Linked DNA regions of Homo sapiens. The protein of the gene in region 1 purifies or fractionates together with the protein of each later gene. This does not show direct contact. Each region holds a gene or a part of one and is shown on either strand. Other genes may lie near its edges. The genes, in order: CALCRL and CRCP.

The links.
Region 2: the proteins of CALCRL (region 1) and CRCP purify together in Homo sapiens (affinity purification with western blotting, with the first as the bait; one study listed by BioGRID). This does not show direct contact.

What each region holds. Positions count from the first base shown.
Region 1 is NC_000002.12:187,375,053-187,378,879, forward strand, and holds part of CALCRL (calcitonin gene-related peptide type 1 receptor precursor), read right to left. Parts: intron 1-3,827. UniProt on the Homo sapiens protein: G protein-coupled receptor which specificity is determined by its interaction with receptor-activity-modifying proteins (RAMPs). Together with RAMP1, form the receptor complex for calcitonin-gene-related peptides CALCA/CGRP1 and CALCB/CGRP2.
Region 2 is NC_000007.14:66,131,596-66,135,422, forward strand, and holds part of CRCP (DNA-directed RNA polymerase III subunit RPC9), read left to right. Parts: intron 1-2,684; coding exon 2,685-2,779; intron 2,780-3,827. UniProt on the Homo sapiens protein: DNA-dependent RNA polymerase catalyzes the transcription of DNA into RNA using the four ribonucleoside triphosphates as substrates.

The DNA.
Region 1 (3,827 bases):
ATGAGGTCAGGAGATCGAGACCATCCTGGCTAACAAGGTGAAACCCCGTCTCTACTAAAAATACAAAAAATTAGCCGGGCGCGGTGGCGGGCGCCTGTAGTCCCAGCTACTCGGGAGGCTGAGGCAGGAGAATGGCGTGAACCCGGGAAGCGGAGCTTGCAGTGAGCCGAGATTGCGCCACTGCAGTCCGCAGTCCGGCCTGGGCGACAGAGCGAGACTCCGTCTCAAAAAAAAAAAAAAAAAAAATTGAGTTATGCCTGAATTCAACTGCATACCTCTTATACTAACTTGCCACTGAAAAATTCTTTTTTTTCCTTTCAGTTCACTATATAGAATAAACAGGTAATTGTACTTTCAGTGAAAACTTCAAGTGGAAGTAAGGTAATTATTTGAAAAACATATTTTTTCTTTTATGTAGAGGTCAAATTTCTTATATTGGCAAGACATTCATTTGCTTTAACAAAGTGTTGCCAATGTAGCATGTTATACATCTTGTTTAAAAGCATGGGCATTTTAGCAAATAACAAATGCATGTATTTATTGCACATAGTAATCTTTATTTTAAAAAATATTATTTTTCTAAAAAATTGGCCTATTTATATGTAAAACACGAGGACAGTATTTGGGAGAACCAAATTTCTGGCCTCTTTTGGAATGAGGAATGTGCCTACAGGTTACATCTTTAAAGTTAATAATTTTGTAAATATATACACAATATCATTTTTAAAAAGCACTTCTCTATAGATGAAATAAACATTCTCTGGTTTTAAATTTTAACCCTTCAATTAAAATTTAAAATTACTTGTGAATATCAGTTGAACAGTATTTGTTCTTGAATAAAACATACATAAATACAGATATAAAAATATTGAACATGATTTTATTCCAATTCTTTATCAATAAGAAATACAGTTTATGTGTGTAGACTGCTTTAAGCTTGCCAAATACTTTAACAGATACCAACTTCCCTGATATGGAGATTATATATTTTGATTAAAAAGATAACTCTTTCATTCTAATCCTCTTTATTCAAGTACTGTTTCATTCATAGATTCTTGGGTGTGGAAAGAGCATTAAAGATCCTCAGGTCTAGCTATGAACCCAGTATAGGAAAGCCATCTACTTCAACTTTCCTGAGTGACAGGAAGGCAAATGCAAGGTTCATTACATTTTGTTTAGTTATATTCGTTTTTTTAAATTTTTTTAATTGAGCTATTTTTTTCTCTGTTTATTATACCAACTGTATTCTCAATTATAGTAATTTGGATTCTTGAAATCATACATTGTGCCTTATATATTTTGTCTTTTTCTGGCTTAACACTCTTGGTGTGGTACCTTGATGCCCGGATCAGTTGATATTTTCTTCAATTTCTTCACTTGATAAGCTAATTTTTATGATATCTTGCTTTTGCTCTCATATAGTGAACTAGGAGAATAAGTGGTCTGATTTGAGATTTAAAATTGAATACTCTACATTTGTTGGTATCATTTGGCTTGCAGCATTGTTTTCACTTGGCAGCCCTACTCTTATCTAATTAGTTCACAGCAAGCATTTTCCATTAAATCTTAGACTCTTTCACATGAAGGAACATAAATAATTTTGCATTTGACTTTAGGAAATTGGTGCAGGACTTTACTTATCTTTACTAAATTCTAACTTGTTTGGGACTGTATGACTTAGAATTCTAGAAACCATTGTCCTTCCCTGTAGCCACTGGTTTTGACAGGCAAATGTAATTATTATACTTTGCAACTTTATCTTCTTCAAAAATTTAATGTGCTCGGATATTTCAACTTATGACATGCAAAATAAAAAGAGACCATTTAATCTGAAGACTTTCAGCTGTATTAGTTTTTAATTTGCAGAGATAGTGGTCTTCCAAATGTTAATTAAAATTTTACCCTATGTCTACTATCGTTAATTGCAATTCTGGAAATATTACAGTAAGTAATTCGGGAAGATTTCACTGAGGAAGTGATGCTAAAATTTAAATCTAAAAGATAAATACATTTAATTAGACTAGGGAGGAGGCAAAGAGAACAGGCAGGGCAAGTTAATGATTTTGATTTTATATTAATTACAATGGAAAATCTAAAAATTTTAAAGCAAAGAATGGCAAAATCAGGTCAATATTTGATCTAAATATTTGAAACTACTATTCTGGCTGCCTTGGTTAGAATTAAATGAAGAGAGAAAGTGAATTTACTGAGGCTAGATAGAACAAGACTGCTGGTGATGGCAGTAGTGATCAGGAAATGGAATAGATTAGAAGGGTTTCAAAAGGTTAAGTTCACAGGTTATAAGGAAAGAGTGACAGAGAAGAAAAATGAGAGAAATGTATCACAGATTACTCTTAAATTTCTGGCCAATGTGATTGGATTTCTGGTAGTGTCATTTGTAAAGATGGGTCACTCTGGAAGAAAACCAGCTTGGGTTAGGAGGAGGTAGATAATATGAATTTGTTTTGAACATGTTCATTTTGAAATATTTTTGAGATGATGTGTTTCAAGAGCCATAAAAAGATATAGACCCTTTGACCAAGAAATCCCAAGACTCTGGGAATGTAGCCTGAGAAAATAGTACAAACTATGGGAAAAGTTATAGTCAAAAATGTCCATTGCAGTGTTTTTTAATTGAAAAAATGAAAGCAATGTTAATGGTCGAAAATAGAGAATTGATAATAACAACTTTTGTACACCTACTAAATGAAAAATTATTTAGCTGCTCAAATGATTGTTTAAAAACTGTTCAGTAACATATAAAGTGCTAATGATAAAATGCTGTTATAAAAATAGTTAAAATATTTTAAATACTATAATTAAAACTGTAGAAACAATATGAAATAAAACTAGAAAAATGTTAGAAATTGCTTAATAGGGTATTAAAATTATAGGTATATATATCTTCTTTGTTTAAAATTAGTAGAAGAAGGAAGTTGGAGGAAGAAGGAGGGGTAGGAAGAGGAATAAGAGAAGAGGAGGAGGAGGAGGAAAAAGAAGAACAAGAAGAAGGAGAAGGAGAAGAAGAAACAAGAAAGAGAAGGAGGAGGAGGAGGAAAAAGAAGAACAAGAAGAAGGAGAAGGAGAAGAAGAAAGAAGAAAGAGAAGGAGCAGCAGTGGCGGTGGCAGCCACAGGAGCAAAAGGAGCAGAAGATGACTACAATGCGATGAAGATACAATGAAACATAGCTACTTACTCTTGTCACGCTGAATTCTATGATTATATATATGCTGATGATCAAAGTTATGAAAATCATGTGAAGGGATAAAATAATGCATGCATGACTTAGAATTTAACTTTCTATAAATTTAAAATTGGTTGTTGATTGCTTTGTTCAAAAAATTGGAGCTGACTCTTCCTCCTCAAAATGGAGTGAATTACAAGTAAAATTGAAAGTACAATTAAACCTTTTTAATGATGACCCGCCAAACGAGGAAAAACCCTAAACAAAGTGTATTTAGATTATATTTTTGATGATATATGTTAAATGCCTTTGCTATTATTTGCACAAAATTCCGGTTTCTAAAATGGACACTTATTCTGTTATTAAAATTGTCCAAAAGCTAAACACACAATTAAGAAGGCCTATACTATTTAACAGTTCCCAAAGCAAATACAGTTAGGTTTATATATTAGTTTGGACTCCCTTCTTATTATATGTCTTCACTTTTATATGCCTACTAATTTTGTAAAATTCAGGTTAAGATATTTCATCAGTCTCCTCTACATATTTTACAAAGCTAAGATCAACTTATTTCAACTTATTTTAAACATTATAAATCATCTATATTGGTATATTTTGTCAGACATGATGTAAATATGCACA
Region 2 (3,827 bases), on another chromosome or scaffold:
AGGCTATTATTTTTCAAGTTTGAGATTCCTTCCAAAATATGTAATTATAATTCCTCCGAAATTTTATCTATATTCTTCCTCAAAAGCCACAAAATCTGTGTAATCATGAGAAAGCATCACATCATTGCAAATCAAAGAAAAAAAAGAAAAATCTTTTTATTTTGAAATCATTTTTCTTTTTTTTTTTTTGAGACGGATTCTCGCTCCTGTTGCCTAGGCTGGAGTGCCATGGCGCAACCTCGGCTCACCTCTGGCTCCCGGGTTCAAGCGATTCTCCTGCCTCAGCCTCCCGAGTAGCTGGGATTACAGGCATGCACCACCTTGCCCGGCTAATTTTGTATTTTTAGTAGAGACAGGGTTTCTCCATGTTGGTCAGGCGGGTATCAAACTCCCGACCTCATGTGATCCGCCCACCTCTGGCTCCCAAAGTGCTGGGATTACAGGCGTGAGCCACCGTGCCCAGCCATTTTTCTCTTACATAAAAGTTGTAGAGACAGTGCTGGGAGTTCTCATGTACCCTTCCCATAGTTTTCTCTGATGTTAATATCTTACATAACCATGGTACAGTGATCAAAACCAAGAAATTAACATTGGTACATACTATTAAGCTAAACTTAAATTTTATTTGAATGCCCTGTTTTCCCATTGCTGTCTTCTGGGTTCCAGGATTCAGTTCAGGATACCATTTTGTATTTAGTTAACATGTCCCCATAATGTCATTCAATCTATATCCTTACTCTTCCTTTGTCTTCCATGACCTTGACACTTCCAAAGTCTCGTCAAGTATTTTGTAGAATGTCTGTTGATTTGTGATTGCCTGATGTTTTATTATGATTACACAAAACCTATGGCTTTTGAGGAAGAGTACCACAGAGGTAATCTCCCCTTCTCGTGTCCTGATTTCTGGGGGTACATGATATTGATGTTTCTTATGGGTGATGTTGTTAACTTTGGTCATTTCGTTAAGATGGTATCTGCCTGGTTTCTCCACTGTAAATCTACTGTTTCTTCATTTCCACATTATGTTAGAAAGGATTTGGCTGGGCGTGGTGGCTCACACTTGTAATCCCAGCACTTTGGGAGGCCGAGGCAGGCGGATCACAAGGTCAGGAGATCGAGACCACGGTGAAACCCCATCTCTACTAAAAAGAAAAAATACAAAAAATTAGCCGGGCGTAGTGGCGGGCGCCTGTAGTCCCAGCTACTCAGAGAGGCTGAGGCAGGAGAATGGCGTGAACCTGGGAGGTGGAGCTTGCAGTGAGCCGAGATTGCGCCACTGCACTCCAGCCTGGGCGACAGAGCAAGACTCTGTCTCAAATAAATAAATAAATAAATAAATAAGATGAAAGGACTTACCAAGTTTAGCCCATATTCAAGGGGAAGCGGGGCGGGGGGATTAAGCTTCACCTCTTGAAGGGAGGGATATCGAAGAATTTGTGGTTGTATGTTAAAACCACCACAGTAATTAAAAAATATTTTGTGGGAGATGCTTTGCGGCTAGGAAAACAGCCTACCCTTTGCTTAAGCTTTTAACCATCAATTTTAGCATTTATTGGTGGGTCTTTCCTGCAGTAGTTATGACTATGGTACAATTGCCTAAGAGTGATTTAAAAATTTTTCTCATTCTTGGCCGGGTGCGGTGTCTCATGCCTATAATCCCAGCACTTTCGGAGGCCGAGGCGGGTGGATCACGAGGTCAGGAGATCGAGACCATCCTGGCTAACACGGTGAAACCTCGTCTCTACTAAAAATACAAAAAGAAATTAGCCGGGCGTGGTGGCAGGCGCCTGTAGTCCCAGCTACTTGGGAGGCTGAAGCAGGAGAATGGTGTGAACCCAGGAGGCGGAGCTTGCAGTGAGCCGAGATCGTGCCGCTGCACTCCAGCCTGCAGTGAGCCGAGATCGTGCCGCTGCACTCCAGCCTGGGTGACAGTGAGACTCCGTCTCAAAAAAAAAAAAAAAAAGAAAAAGTTGTCTCTTCTTACCCGTTTATCTATTCAGTCGTATATATCCATGTAGACTCATGGCAATTTATTTTATTCTTTGGGTTCCCCCTCTTTAAAAAAATTGTTCAAAATATAACACAATTGTCAGATTGAGGGTTTTTTTTTTTTGAGATCAGAAAAGTTTTCTCCTAAAATTTCATTAGTTATTCTTCCTCTTCTAGCTACTGGTTTTCTCTTTCAGAAATTCCAATTACACGAAGATTGGTTCTCCTGAATGCCTTTTTGTTTTATACAGGATTTTTTTTCTTTTTTGTTTTCTTTTTTTTTTTTTTTTTTGAGACAGAGTCTCACTCTGTCACCCAGGCTGGAGTGCCATGGTGTGATCTCGGCTCACTGCAACCTCTGCCTCCCAGGTTCAAGTGTTTCTCCTGCCTCAGCCTCCCTAGTAGCTGGGATTACAGGCGTGCACCTCCACACCCAGCTAATTTTTTGTATTTTTGGTAGAGATGGGGTTTCACCATGGTGGCCAGGCTGGTCTCGAACTCCTGACCTCAGGTGATTTGGCCACCTCGGCCTCCCAAAGTGCTGGGATTACAGGTGTGAGCCACCGTGCCCAGCCTCTACAGGATTTTTACAAACAAAATTTTAGAATTTTAATTACAGTCATTGCCTTTGTTTTTTCTCATTCAGGGTTCTTTGTCTTATGCTTGGCTTTTTTCTTTTTTTTTTTTTTTGCCAGACGTTAAAATACATATCAAAAACACCATGCAGGCACCAGAGTCCTGAAATTGTCAGAGAATTTCTCACAGCATTGAAAAGCCACAAGTTGACCAAGTAAGTAAATCTCTTAAGTAGGAAGAGCGTGACACATGGTGAAATGATAGTTGCTACATTCGTAGCAACCGTGTATTGATATTCGGCTGGGTTTGGATTTAAAGAAGGATTATAGTATTGGAGATGAAACAACTGAAAGTTAGACATAGGGACTAGAGTAAGGAACAAATCTTTTTTTTTTTTTTTTTATAAATGAAGAAAGTTCATTTATCCTAGTGATACTGTATTACTCTGCCTGCTTATTCTGCAAAATTAGCAGAGATTAATTTACATTCTCAAAAAAGACGGGTGAGGGGAAATGGAAATGCTTCATGGAAAAGAAGGCAAATTTAGGTCATAGGTAGAGATCTCAATCAAATGGGCCAAAATACAGTTTATTTATATCTGCTAACTCCCAACTGCTAGCATCTGACCACAGCATAACAAGCTTGGAATCGGGGAACCTGGGCTGTAGTCCAGTTTCTGCCCCTTATAGCACCATGACCTTGGAAAAGGTATTTGACCTCTCTGAGTTTCATTATCCTTACCACTGAATAAGGATCATCTGCTAAACTCACAAGGCTGGGGAAAGGGTGAAGGGTGGTGTCTTCATGGAAACAATATGTGTAGATGTCCTTTTTGGACTCCAGAAGCCATAAATGATGCAACCTTATTTATTAACCATTAATGTGAACAGGGCCAACCATTTCTATGTTATTAACACTGCTTCTTCCCTAATGATTCAATTCAGATAAACCTTACAAAGCACTTCACACCAAGAGCTGAGTATCAGGGCCACTTGGTTCTTACAGACGCAGTGCCTCCAAGCCAAAATTGGTAGAACCAATAGTTCTACTCTTAAAGCAGGACCTCTCTAGCCTCCCATTATCTAGATGAAAATGAGCTTACTAATTTAGAAACACAAGTGAGTATATTCTAGGCTAACCAAAGTAATTCTTCTCTAATTATTGAGAACATTAAATGTCACGAGCTGATCTCAAAATATTAGTAAAATAAGTTAAATTGTTTTGAAAGGAAGGAAATGTGATAATGTAGAAATGGGGAAAAA